Homo sapiens: one gene and its partners. The protein of the gene in region 1 interacts with the protein of each later gene in a pairwise test. Each region holds a gene or a part of one and is shown on either strand. Other genes may lie near its edges.

Region 1 (3,751 bases):
GAGTATTTGAGGGCAAAAATTATATTTTTTAAAAGTTATATTGTAGACAAATATGGTGGCCATAAGACTGACCCCCAGTTAAGGTTGGGGAAAGAACGTACATTCCTTGAATTCCAAAAACACATTGCTTTTAGAGGAGAGGGTTTGAAACAAGTGTGAACAGAATATAAACCAATTTCCCTCTTATTGAAATAGAAACTCGGTATGTTATCCCTCTATAATAATCCCCACTCTGTAAGTTTCCTGTCCCCAAAGGCAGTTGTTGCTTTTTAGTACCTTCTGTGGTATAACTTTTCTTTGTGAAAGATACATTTTCCTCGTCACTTTCTGAAGCCAAAGAGAGGGTCAGGGTAGGAAGAAGGAGACACTATTAGTGGTTTCCTATATTTACTGCTTTCCCAGTTATCTTCCATTGTTAAGTCCCATGAACAATGATTAGTAGAAAAAATGCTTTTTAGCAATCGTGAATACAGTCTCTGAAACATTATTTTTAAACTGCTAACAAGAATGAAAATATGCATTAAACCACGTACTTAGTACCTCAAAGAATTCAGGGAAGATTCCCCTTTTTAAAAAACAAAATTGTGAAATCTACCTTCTTTACCTTGCTTTCACCACGTTTTACCTTGCTTTTACCACCTTTCAGGTGGCTTCATGGGAATTTATCAGGGATCTGGTGAGCATAGGCAATTGATTTTGACTCATCCTAGTTACAGCTGTTAGTAGGAAGTAGATGACTAAAAGGGAATTGAAGTTGGCTAGCTTGGGAAAGTAGATGTAAACTGGTCCTACAAATGGAATATTTGTAAAATCAGGTTAACTTAGGAAAACCAGCCAGAAAATTAACTATGAGTACTTGAAGCTATTTGCCAAATGGGTCCAAATCCCTAGGAAAGAGGTTAAAGGTATGGATGATATATCTTTGCAGATGGCATTAAAGACAGAAGAGTTAAAGGAAAACTACTGCTTTATATATTTCTGAGAAACCACAATAAAAGCTTTCACCCCGTCTGTCAATCTCCAGGTAATGTTATTTATGCACGTCTAGGCTTAGAGTATTATTTTCTGTTTTCAAGTTAGCTTTACACAGTATAACATTAATCTCAGAATCCATTCTTCCAAGTAATACACAAGGTGGCGATTTATAGAAAAACAAAAAATCCTTTCCTGTTCACAAGGTGGAGTTCTTCAGCCCACAGTGCCATATTTAAGGGTGCTTTGTTTCAGAGGATGATTAGAGTGGCGCCCTTGGTACTGATTATAGTGGAGCTACCTGTAGTGCCCAAGTCTGGGCACTGCATTATATTAAAACTTCCATTTTGGGGTATGTAGTGACTAAAAATTGTCTCCCAGCTTAAACTTGGCATCAACCATATATCTCAGCAGAAGCAAGATTATTGAGTATAGAACCACAGGAACCCGGCACTTTTCTTTTTATAATTGTACAGGAAAAGAGACCCTGCTGAAATAGCACCTATGGTTCTCCATTCTTAGATGAAAATTTCAAGCACTGAGGGCTCTTTCCCAAAGTAGAATCAGTAGGTTGCTATGACTGTGACAGGACATAGTCTCTTACATTATTAAATCCCAAATTTTCTAGAATAAAATAATTTCAGCTTCTTTTTAGAAGCAGCAGCAGAAAATGATGAAGCCTTGTCTGCTCCATTGAGTAGCACTTCTGACTATGGTTTCTCTGGAGTTCTTACATTTCCAACAGTTCACCAACTAAGATGGAATTTGTCTAATGCATGTCTCTGACATGGTGAAGATTGAGAGTTCAGGTCTAACAAAAGCCGCTAAGCATAAACTGCACCCAAAAGTTGGCAGGTCTGTGGAATCATGGACGGAGTGGAACTCAGGCAAAAAAGTGAGGATGATGTGGCCTTGAATTGTCACAATTCAAGGCATATGCTTGGCAGTTCAACACCACTATCTCTATATAGGCGTGTCTTACTGAAATGTCCCTATTTTACCCCTAGGATGGCCATGTTTTATATATTTAAAAGCCCAAATTAATTGGGCATAAATAATTAATTACAGATCACTTAAAGACTTTTAACAGTTCTCTTCATATATGTAAACAAAGGGACAATGTGCACCTGGCCTTACACTATTTCACTAAGTCAGAAAAAAATTAACATTTGTATAATAAATATGAATTGTACTGGGTGTCTACTTTTTGCCAGGCACTGTGCTAAATAGTTCACATGCATTATCATATTTAACTCTTCAAAAGAACCTTAAAGGTGACACTGTTTTTGTCCCTATGTTACAGAGGAAGAAACTGAGTTGAGAGATTAAGTTATTTGCCAATGAACATACAATTTGTAAATAATAGATGCTTTACAGCTGGTAAGGTAGTACTCATATTTTTACCCCCATTGAAAAAAAGGTGAAGAAGTTGCTTCTGGTTAAGTCCTTAGATATTCTTGAGACAGAACTTGGGATCAGAACCAGATAGGTCTGCAACTCTGGCCACCTGAAGACTTTTCAACCTCTTCTTGGACACAGAGTGTTTAGGTGGTCTTTGTTCAGCCAATCACTTAGCTTTCCCCATCCTGTCTTTCCTGCTTAGGGAAAGAATATCAACAAAATTCAAAATTCGAAGACTTACATGGAAGTCTAATATAATTTCGATAAGAAAAACAATAAATCAAACTTTATATTCAGTGCTTAAGACTTTGTATGCATTGACTAGATAAATTTCCTACACCCTCCCAGAAGAAACAGCTCCTTTTTTGAGACGGAATCTCGCTCTGCCGCCAGGCTAGAGTGCAGTGGCGGGATCTCAGCTCACTGCAACCTCCGCTTCCCAGGGTCAAGCGATTTTCCTGCCTCAGCCTCCTGAGTAGCTGGGATTACAGGCGCGCACCACCACACCCAGCTAATTTTTGTATTTTTAGTAGAGACGGGGTTTCACCATGTTGGCCAGGATGGTCTGGATCTCTTGACCGCGTGATCCGCCCCCCTCGGCTTCCCAAAGTACCGGGATTACAGGCATGAGCCACAGCGCCCGGCCAGTAGAAATAGCTCTTAAAAGTGTAGATAACCGGCCAGGCGTGGTGGCTCACGCCTGTAATCTCAGCTACTCAGGAGGCTGAGGCAGGAGAATGCTTGAACTCGGGAGGCGGAGGTTGCAGTGAGCCGAGATCGTGCCATTGCACTCCAGCCTGGGCGACAGAATGAGACTCCGTCTCAAAAAAAAAAAAAAAAAAAATGCAGATAACCAATGATTCAGCATACATTGCAATCATATAAAAAATGCTTCTGAATATGTATATGAGTAACATTTATATTCCTGTAATGAAAAACCTTTTGTGTGCACATAAACTCAAAAGGATATTATTATTCCTGGAATAATAATTTCATGTCAAGGAGAATAAAGTTTTGAAATAACTTGGAAGATGGTGAGGGTAATTTAGTATACTTTAAATACTTAAATACAATGAACTAGATATAATAAACCTGGCTTGAAAGATAGTCTTAGGGACCTGGCCCAACAAACACTGTTAAAATTTTTTAAAAATCAACTTGAAGCTCTCATAATTTCCCATTATCAAAACTACCCCCTGCAAATCTGTGAATCTAATCCAAGAAGTATGTCAATAGCTGGTTGTTTAAGGTTAGGTTTATGAAATAGTAACAGAACTGTGCAGGGGTCAAATATGCTTAAAATATGTCCAAACATGCTTAGGTCAAGTCAGTAAGAGTATCTGAAGCTAATAAAAGCATGGAATATTCTTGCGACTGA
Region 2 (3,751 bases), on another chromosome or scaffold:
ACCACCACGCCTGGCTAATTTTTGTATTTTTAGTAGAGGTGGGGTTTCACCATGTTGGCCAGGCTGGTCTCAAACTCCTGACCTCAAATGATCTGCCCGCCTCGGCCTCCCAAAGTGCTGGGGTTACAGGCATGAGCCTCTGCGCCCGGCCAAAACTCACCACTTCTTATGGAGGCTCAAGACGCAGGGAATGAGGTCTTCATAGGAGAATCCGGTGAGGTCCCACAGCTGAGTGGTCCAGGGCTGTGCTGGGGAGGAAAGCAGGCCAGGGGTGGAGGGGATGGAGGGGACGGAGGGGATGGAGGGGACGGAGGGGCTGTGGTGACAGCCGCCTGAACACTCCCGCTCTATAGCTCTGTGGGCTCTGCTGTGGAGTTTCTTGGAGCTCAGGGTTGCAATCCTTTTAAAATAGTTTTGAAAAAAACCCATACATAGGGCGTGCAGGCTCATGGTCAGAAATCTGGGACATCACTGAAGGTAGGAGCCGTGCTGTATCTCACCCCCCAAGAAGTAACCAGGACAAATGGATGCTGGACTCTTTTCCTCCCCACAGCCTCCTCCTATGTCAGCACCTTCCCCGACACAGGCATCCCTGGGAAGGGCCACTCCTTACTCTGCCCGTGCGTCAGTCTGGCCAGGAGCAGGGCTGCGGCAGCCAGGCGGGCTGGGGCGTAGGCGGACAGGCTGGTGTGCAGCAGGGAGAGCTCGCAGAGGAAGCTGCACAGGTGCTGGGTTCTCAGCTCCACAGGGACTAGCGTCAGCAGGACCTCCTTGTAATCCACCACAGTGGGGACCTAGACAGCCGGGACGGGGTGTGGGCTCTCAGCGCTCGGGGGCTCCTTGGTGCAGTGCCGCATGCAGGCCCAGCGCAGGGTCTGGCCCGGATGATGTTCACGCCGATGCTGCACGCGTAGCGCACCAGCGCAGATGGCGACGTGGTGCAACCGTGGCCTCCTGCTCCATGGCTTTGGGCACAGCAGAGACAGCTGCTCTCTGAGTCCATGAGGCCCTCCCACAGCAGGAAAGCTGAATGCCCACCCCCACCCTCCAGCACAGCGACAACGAAGATTAATAAGGAAAATGGAACCGCTGCTTACTCGAATCTTCCCTTCCAAGGCGGAGACGATCTCGCCCATCATTCTCACCAGGTCCTCGTACTTGTAAGTGTTGTCCGTGAGCCATACGGCCTCCCGGATGGTCAGGATCTCTTTACTGATAAACCTGCAACGCCGAGAAGGGGTCTCAGGGTGGAGCCCACTTCCTGGGGCAGGGGTGGGGCGGAGGGACCCAAGGCTTTAGGAGGCCTCAAGGTAGGGAGGGAGCCATGGCGTTGGGCTTTGGTGACAAACAGAGGCTTCATAATGGAGCCAGCTGCCTGTGGCTGACAAGGGGCATTTAAAAAAGGGGAGGCCCAGGCAGGAGGACAGCTCAGCCAGGAGTTCGAGACCACCCTGGGCAACAAAGCAAGACCCTATCTCTTCAAAAAGTTAAAAAATAAAAAATTAGCAGAGCATGGTGGCACGTGCCTATAGTCTCAGTTACTTGGGACGCTAAGGTGGGAGGATTGCTTAAGCCCAGGAAGTTGAGGCTGCAGTGAGCTTTGATTACACCACTGCATTCCAACCTGGGTGACAGAGCAAGACACTGTCTCAAAAAATAATCATCATAATAATAACAAAGGGGAGGTCAGAAAGTGCTGGAAAGAGGGATGAGAGCCACAAGGCAGACAGAAAGCAGCAAGGCTGTTAGGCAGACTCACAAATGTCTGCAAAAGGCCCAAGTGCCCTGAGCATTCAGTTTGCTAAAAGACACCAAGGACAGAGATTTGCCTGTCACGTGACAGCTCTATCAGTGGGGTAGAAATGTTATAGACCCAGAAGGTGGGTGAGTCACCAGATCTAGGAATTGGAGGCAAAGGGCCCAAGGGTTGTTGGAAAGTCTGTGCCCGGCACTGTGTGGCCGCAGGAATCCTGACTGTCTCTAGGCGATGGTCACCCTGTTCTCTGTTGTCAACCAGCGCCAACTATCAGGGAACACGCTGCTCCAGCGGCCCCCCGCAAGGCACCTTCCCCTTGGACTGAGGCCAAGTCCCTTGGCTGCTCTGTCCTGGGGACTCTGCAGGTTGCATGCGTCATTCACTTGACCAAGAGGACAAGAGGCGCAGGGACTACACCTGCCAGCGTGGGGGCTGCAGACGCCAAAAAGACAAGATGTCAGTGGCCAATGAGAGCCCAGCGTGGGGTGTGAGATGGCTGGTGGGGGCAGGGCACCTCTGAGAGCAGAGGTGGGGGGCAGCTCAGCCTTTAAAATCTTTTTTTTTTTGAGACAGAGTTTCCCTCTGTCACCCAGGCTGGATTAGTGCAGTGGCGCTATCTCAGCTCACTGCAACCTCCGCCTCCCAGGTTCAAGTGATTCTCATGCCTCAGCCTCCCAAGTAGATGGGACTACAGGCGCCCACTACCACGTCTGGCTAATTTTGTTTGTATTTTTTTGAGACAGAGTCTTGCGCCATTGCCCAGGCTGCAGTGCAATGGTGTAATCTTGGCTCACTGCAACCTCTGCCTCTCGGGTTCAAGCAATTCTCCTGCCTCAGCCTCCTGAGTAGCTGGGATTACAGGCATGCACCACCACGCCCAGCTAATTTTTTGTATCTTTAGTAGAGACAGGGTTTCACCATGTTGGCCAGGCTGGTCTTGAACTCCTGACCTCACGATCCGCCCACATCAGCCTCCCAAAGTGCTGGGATTACAGGCGTGAGCCACCGTGCCTGGTCCCCGGATTTAAAAAAAAAAAAAAAAAAGATAATAAGGCAGAGTTGATTTGAGGGAGCTGTGGTGATAGTTATATGGACCACTGCAATCAGGTCTTGTGGTTGGGGAAGAAATTGGACTCAGCTCCCTGAAACGTTTTTAGCAGTTATTCTCTCACTGCCAGCCGGTTGTGGCCCAGGAGCTTTGTCGTAGGTTGCAGTGATGGATGTGCAGTCAGATCCAGGGAGGCGGCCGCCCGACCTCCTCAGTCGTCTCTGGTCGGAAGACCTGGGACGCTGGATTCAGGCCCAAGAGCGCATCTGAAGACAGCTCTGGATGCTTGTGGCAGGGTTTGCTCCCTCCTTCCATGGGAATGACACTGCATCGAGCTGGCACACACAGGCCCGAAGAGACTACACCTCCCAGTTCCCGTCTGGTGAGATGTGGTCACAAGACTAAGCTCAGTGCAAAGGTGAATGTGGCAGGTACAGGTGTCACAGGGACAAGGGCAGCACCCTAGTTGGTGGCAGAGATTAAGATGGGAGATGGGGCTCCTCTGCTTCCTCATGAAACAAAAAACATGCCAATGACCTGAGCCTGGAACCTCTGCCTCTGGGTTACCTGTGCAAGAAAGAAACAAGTCTCTGTAGCTTACACATATGCTGTGTGCAGCCAAGCCTATCCTCACCCACCAGGCTCTACAGAGGAGTCGGTCTGGAAAGCACTTCCTCGGGAAATGTAGACCATGCTGGGGACAGCTGGTTTAGGAAATGCAAATCGTATTGTGAGAATCATTTCCACGTTATTTCCAAAGGCGGAACTAGGGGATCCAGCATTAGTTAAAGGAAAGCAGTGGTCTGATTTGAAAAGGACAGGCTGCCGTGTAAGGACGCACGCTGCTGCTGAGAGACACCCACGTGGCTGGAGTGGGCTCTGCAGGGCACCAGTGGGGGACGAAAAACTCTCTAACTCCAAGAGTGTAGGAAACTCTGGCAACAGAC
Region 3 (3,751 bases), on another chromosome or scaffold:
CATGTAGAATATCTAAAGTAATTTCGTTTAAACAGTTTTTAAGTAGAAGGTGGAGGAGTACAGGATAAGCATTCATATCCCTCTAGAGCAGTTATTTCAACCAGATTTTGGTTAGACTAGGAGTTGATCTTAAAGTTGATTATTAAAATCTAAGCAGAGCACAGGTGTTTTGTATCTCCTCGCAGTGGTGGAATACCTACTACCATTCAGTGATGCTCTTTGGAAATAATCATGGTCACATTCCTTAAAAGTGTAAGCCAGAAATCCTCTTACAGTTTAACAAAAAATAATTTCTGAAACATCAACAATTGTTAATGGAATTTAAAAATTCTCTTAAGATGTCAGATTAAGTTTTTTTTCATTAGAGAAATTGTATAGGCCTTAGCTGTGTTTAAAGAAAGAGTGGATCAATTTTCAATAATACCACTATTTGTATTCTAGGCCTTCAGTGAAATTCAGGGACTAACAGATCAGGCAGACAAATTGATAGGACAGAAAAATCTCCTGACTCGAAAACGGAATATTCTGATACGGAAAGTATCGTCTCTTTCAGGTGAGATAAGTAAATAATCTCTGGTAAAGAGCATAATTATAGCTTTATCAAGAAGAAATCCTCAGTAGATCTTTCAGATACTTAATTGAAAGCTTGGCTCCCACAGTTTACAGCACAGTTATCCTTTGACTGGGTGGTGGGTTGTTTCTTGTGAATTGTAATCACCTTACTTTCCATAGTTTTTGGGAATATAGTTAAAGCAACTAGATTTCTGTTGACTCTGTTTCTCATTATGTGGCGTAATGCTGAAAGTGCTAATGTATTCTGTTAACTTACAGGTAAGACAGAAGAAGTGGTCCTGAAGAAGCTAGAGTATATTTATGCAAAACAGCAAGCACTAGAGGCACAAAAAAGAAAAAAGAAGATGGGATCAGATGAGTTTGACATATCTCCCAGAATTAGCAAACAGCAGGAAGGATCTTCTGCATCATCTGTAGATCTTGGACAGATGTTTATAAATAACAGGAGGGGGAAACCTTTGATTCTTTCCAGAAAAAAAGACCAGGCCACAGGTAGGAGGGACATTCTTCGCTTTCCTTAATGTAGATATACATCAGTTGACTTTAGTGGACTGACCACCTTCTCTTGTCCACATTTTTAGTTTTGTGTGGTTTTTTTTTTTTTTTTTTTTTTTTTTTTTTGGAGACAGCTCTGTCGCCCAGGCTGCAGTTGCAGTGATGTGATCTCAGCTCATTGCAACCTCCACCTCCCAGGTTCAAGCGATTATCTGCTTCAGCCTCCTGAGTAGCTGGGACTACAGCGAGCACCACCATGCCCAATTTGTTTTTTTAATTTTTTAGTAGAGATGGGATTTTGCCCTGTTGGCCAGGCTAGTCTCAAACTCTTGACCTCAAGTGATCCACCCGCCTTGGCCTCCCAAAGTGCTGGGATTACAGGTGTGAGCAACCACACCCAGCCCACAGTTTTAGTTTTAATTAAATGAATTAAAGATGGGTTGTATAAAAAGTAGAATATTAACTACATTCGATTTTGGTTTCTGGTTGTAATACACACTCATGCAAATCCTGAGAAGTTACCAGTCCTGGTAGCATATTAGTCTATAGTCATGTATTTTTAATGAGTAGTTTTTTAAACTTATCTTTTCAGACTTATACTTGACTTCGTGATTTCCCTGCAGTTCTACTGATGGGTTTAAGAAGTTGGGTCTAGCTGAGACCAATAAATGGGAAATTTTTTGTAAAATTTAATTTTGTCAAATCAGGCTCTATTTTTCTTTCTTCCTTTTTTTTTTTTTTTTTTTTTTTTTGAGACAGAGTCTTGCTCTGTTGCCCGGGCTGGAGTGCAGTGGCGCGATCTTGGCTCACTGCAAGCTCCACCTCCTGGGTTCATGCCATTCTCCTGCCTCAGCCTCCCCAGTAGCTAGGACTATAGGCGCCTGCCACTACACCCGGCTAATTTTTTTTGTATTTTTAGTAGAGACGGGGTTTCACCGTGTTAGCCAGGATGGTCTCGATCTCCTGACCTCGTGATCCGCCCACCTCGGCCTCCCAAAGTGCTGGGATTACAGGCGTGAGCCACTGCGCCTGGCCATCAGGCTCTATTTTTCATCAGATCACTTACTTATTAATACATTACTATTAAGAAACAGTAGGCCGGATGCGGTGGCTCACGCCTGTAATCCCAGAACTTTGGGAGGCTGAGGCGGGCAGATCACCTGAGGTTGGGAGTTTGAGACTAGCCTGACTAACATGGAGAAACCCTGTCTCTACTAAAAATACAAAATTAGCCAGGTGTGGTGGCTCATGCCTGTAATCTCAGCTATTTAGGAGGCTGAGGCAGGAGAATCACTTTAACCCGGAAGGTGGAAGTTGTGGTGAGCTGAGATCACACCATTGCATTCCAGCCTGGGCAACAAGCACGAAACTCTGTCTGAAACAAAACAAAACAAAACAAAACAAAAACCCCAAAGTAAATTAGTCTTAACTTCTTATTACCATCTTGATTTTGGAAGTAAAGTTATATTGATTTTATGTGTTACTTATATTCTTAGAGAATGGTATATCTGGCTGGGCGCAGTGGCTCATGCCTGTAATCCCACCCCTTAGGGAGGCAGAGGCAGGAGGATTGCTTGCACTCAGGAATTTGAGACCAGCCTTGGGCAACATGGTGAAACCCTGTCTCTACTAAAAATACCAAAATTAGCCGGATGTGGTGGTGCACACCTGTAGTCCCAGCTACTTGGGAGGCTGAGGCAGGAGAATCACTTGAACCCGGGTGGCGGAGGCTGCAGTGAGCTGAAATCACACCACTGTGCTCTAGCCTGTGTGACAGAGTGAGACTCCATCTCAAAAAAAATTAAAAAAAAAAATGGTATATTCTTTTTTACTCTTTAAATGTTTGGATAGCCCAGTGTATGAGCCAAAAAAAATCTGGTGTGGGTATTTTTTTTTTTTTTTTTTTGAGACGGAGTCTCGCTCTGTTGCCCAGGGTAGAGTGCGGTGGCGCAATCTAGGCTCACTGCCAGCTCCGCCTCCCAGGTTCACGCCATTCTTCTGCCTCAGCCTGCCGTGTAGCTGGGACTACAGGCGCCCGCCACCACGCCTGGCTAATTTTTTGTATTTTTAGTAGAGATGGGGTTTCACCGTGTTAGCCAGGATGGTCTTGATCTCCTGACCTCGTGATCCACCTGCCTCGGCTTCCCAAAGTGCTGGGATTACAGGCGTCAGCCACCGCACTTGGCTGTTTTGTTTTGAGAAGGGCCTCACTCTGTAGCTCAGGCTGGAGTGCAGTGTCTCGCTTGCAGCCTTGACCTCCTGGGCTTAAGCAATTCTCCCACCTCAGCCTTCCTAGTAGCTGGGACCACAGGTGCACACCACCACACCCGCCTAATTTAAAAAAATTTTTCTTGTAGAGATGGAGATGGGGTCTCACCATGTTTCCCAGGCTGGTCTTGAACTCCTGGGCTCAAGTGATCTGCCTGCCTCAGCCTCCCAAAGTGCTGGGATTACAGGCATGAGCCACCACACCCAGCTGAATGCCTTTTATCTATAACTAATTTCTGATCTTTCTTACAGAAAATACCTCACCCTTGAACACTCCACACACCTCTGCCAACCTTGTGATGACTCCGCAAGGGCAATTGCTCACCCTAAAAGGTCCCCTATTCTCAGGACCAGTGGTAGCTGTTTCTCCTGATCTCTTAGAATCTGATCTTAAGCCTCAAGTTGCCGGTAGTGC

What was found.
Region 2: the proteins of E2F3 (region 1) and CCNF interact in a two-hybrid assay, tested with the Homo sapiens proteins (one study listed by BioGRID).
Region 3: the proteins of E2F3 (region 1) and MGA interact in a two-hybrid assay, tested with the Homo sapiens proteins (one study listed by BioGRID).

The regions. Positions count from the first base shown.
Region 1 is NC_000006.12:20,404,811-20,408,561, reverse strand, and holds part of E2F3 (transcription factor E2F3), read right to left. Parts: intron 1-3,751.
Region 2 is NC_000016.10:2,446,325-2,450,075, reverse strand, and holds part of CCNF (cyclin-F), read right to left. Parts: intron 1,222-3,751; coding exon 1,098-1,221; intron 795-1,097; coding exon 614-794; intron 249-613; coding exon 161-248; intron 1-160. UniProt on the Homo sapiens protein: Substrate recognition component of a SCF (SKP1-CUL1-F-box protein) E3 ubiquitin-protein ligase complex which mediates the ubiquitination and subsequent proteasomal degradation of target proteins.
Region 3 is NC_000015.10:41,761,298-41,765,048, forward strand, and holds part of MGA (MAX gene-associated protein), read left to right. Parts: intron 1-441; coding exon 442-553; intron 554-831; coding exon 832-1,065; intron 1,066-3,588; coding exon 3,589-3,751. UniProt on the Homo sapiens protein: Functions as a dual-specificity transcription factor, regulating the expression of both MAX-network and T-box family target genes. Functions as a repressor or an activator.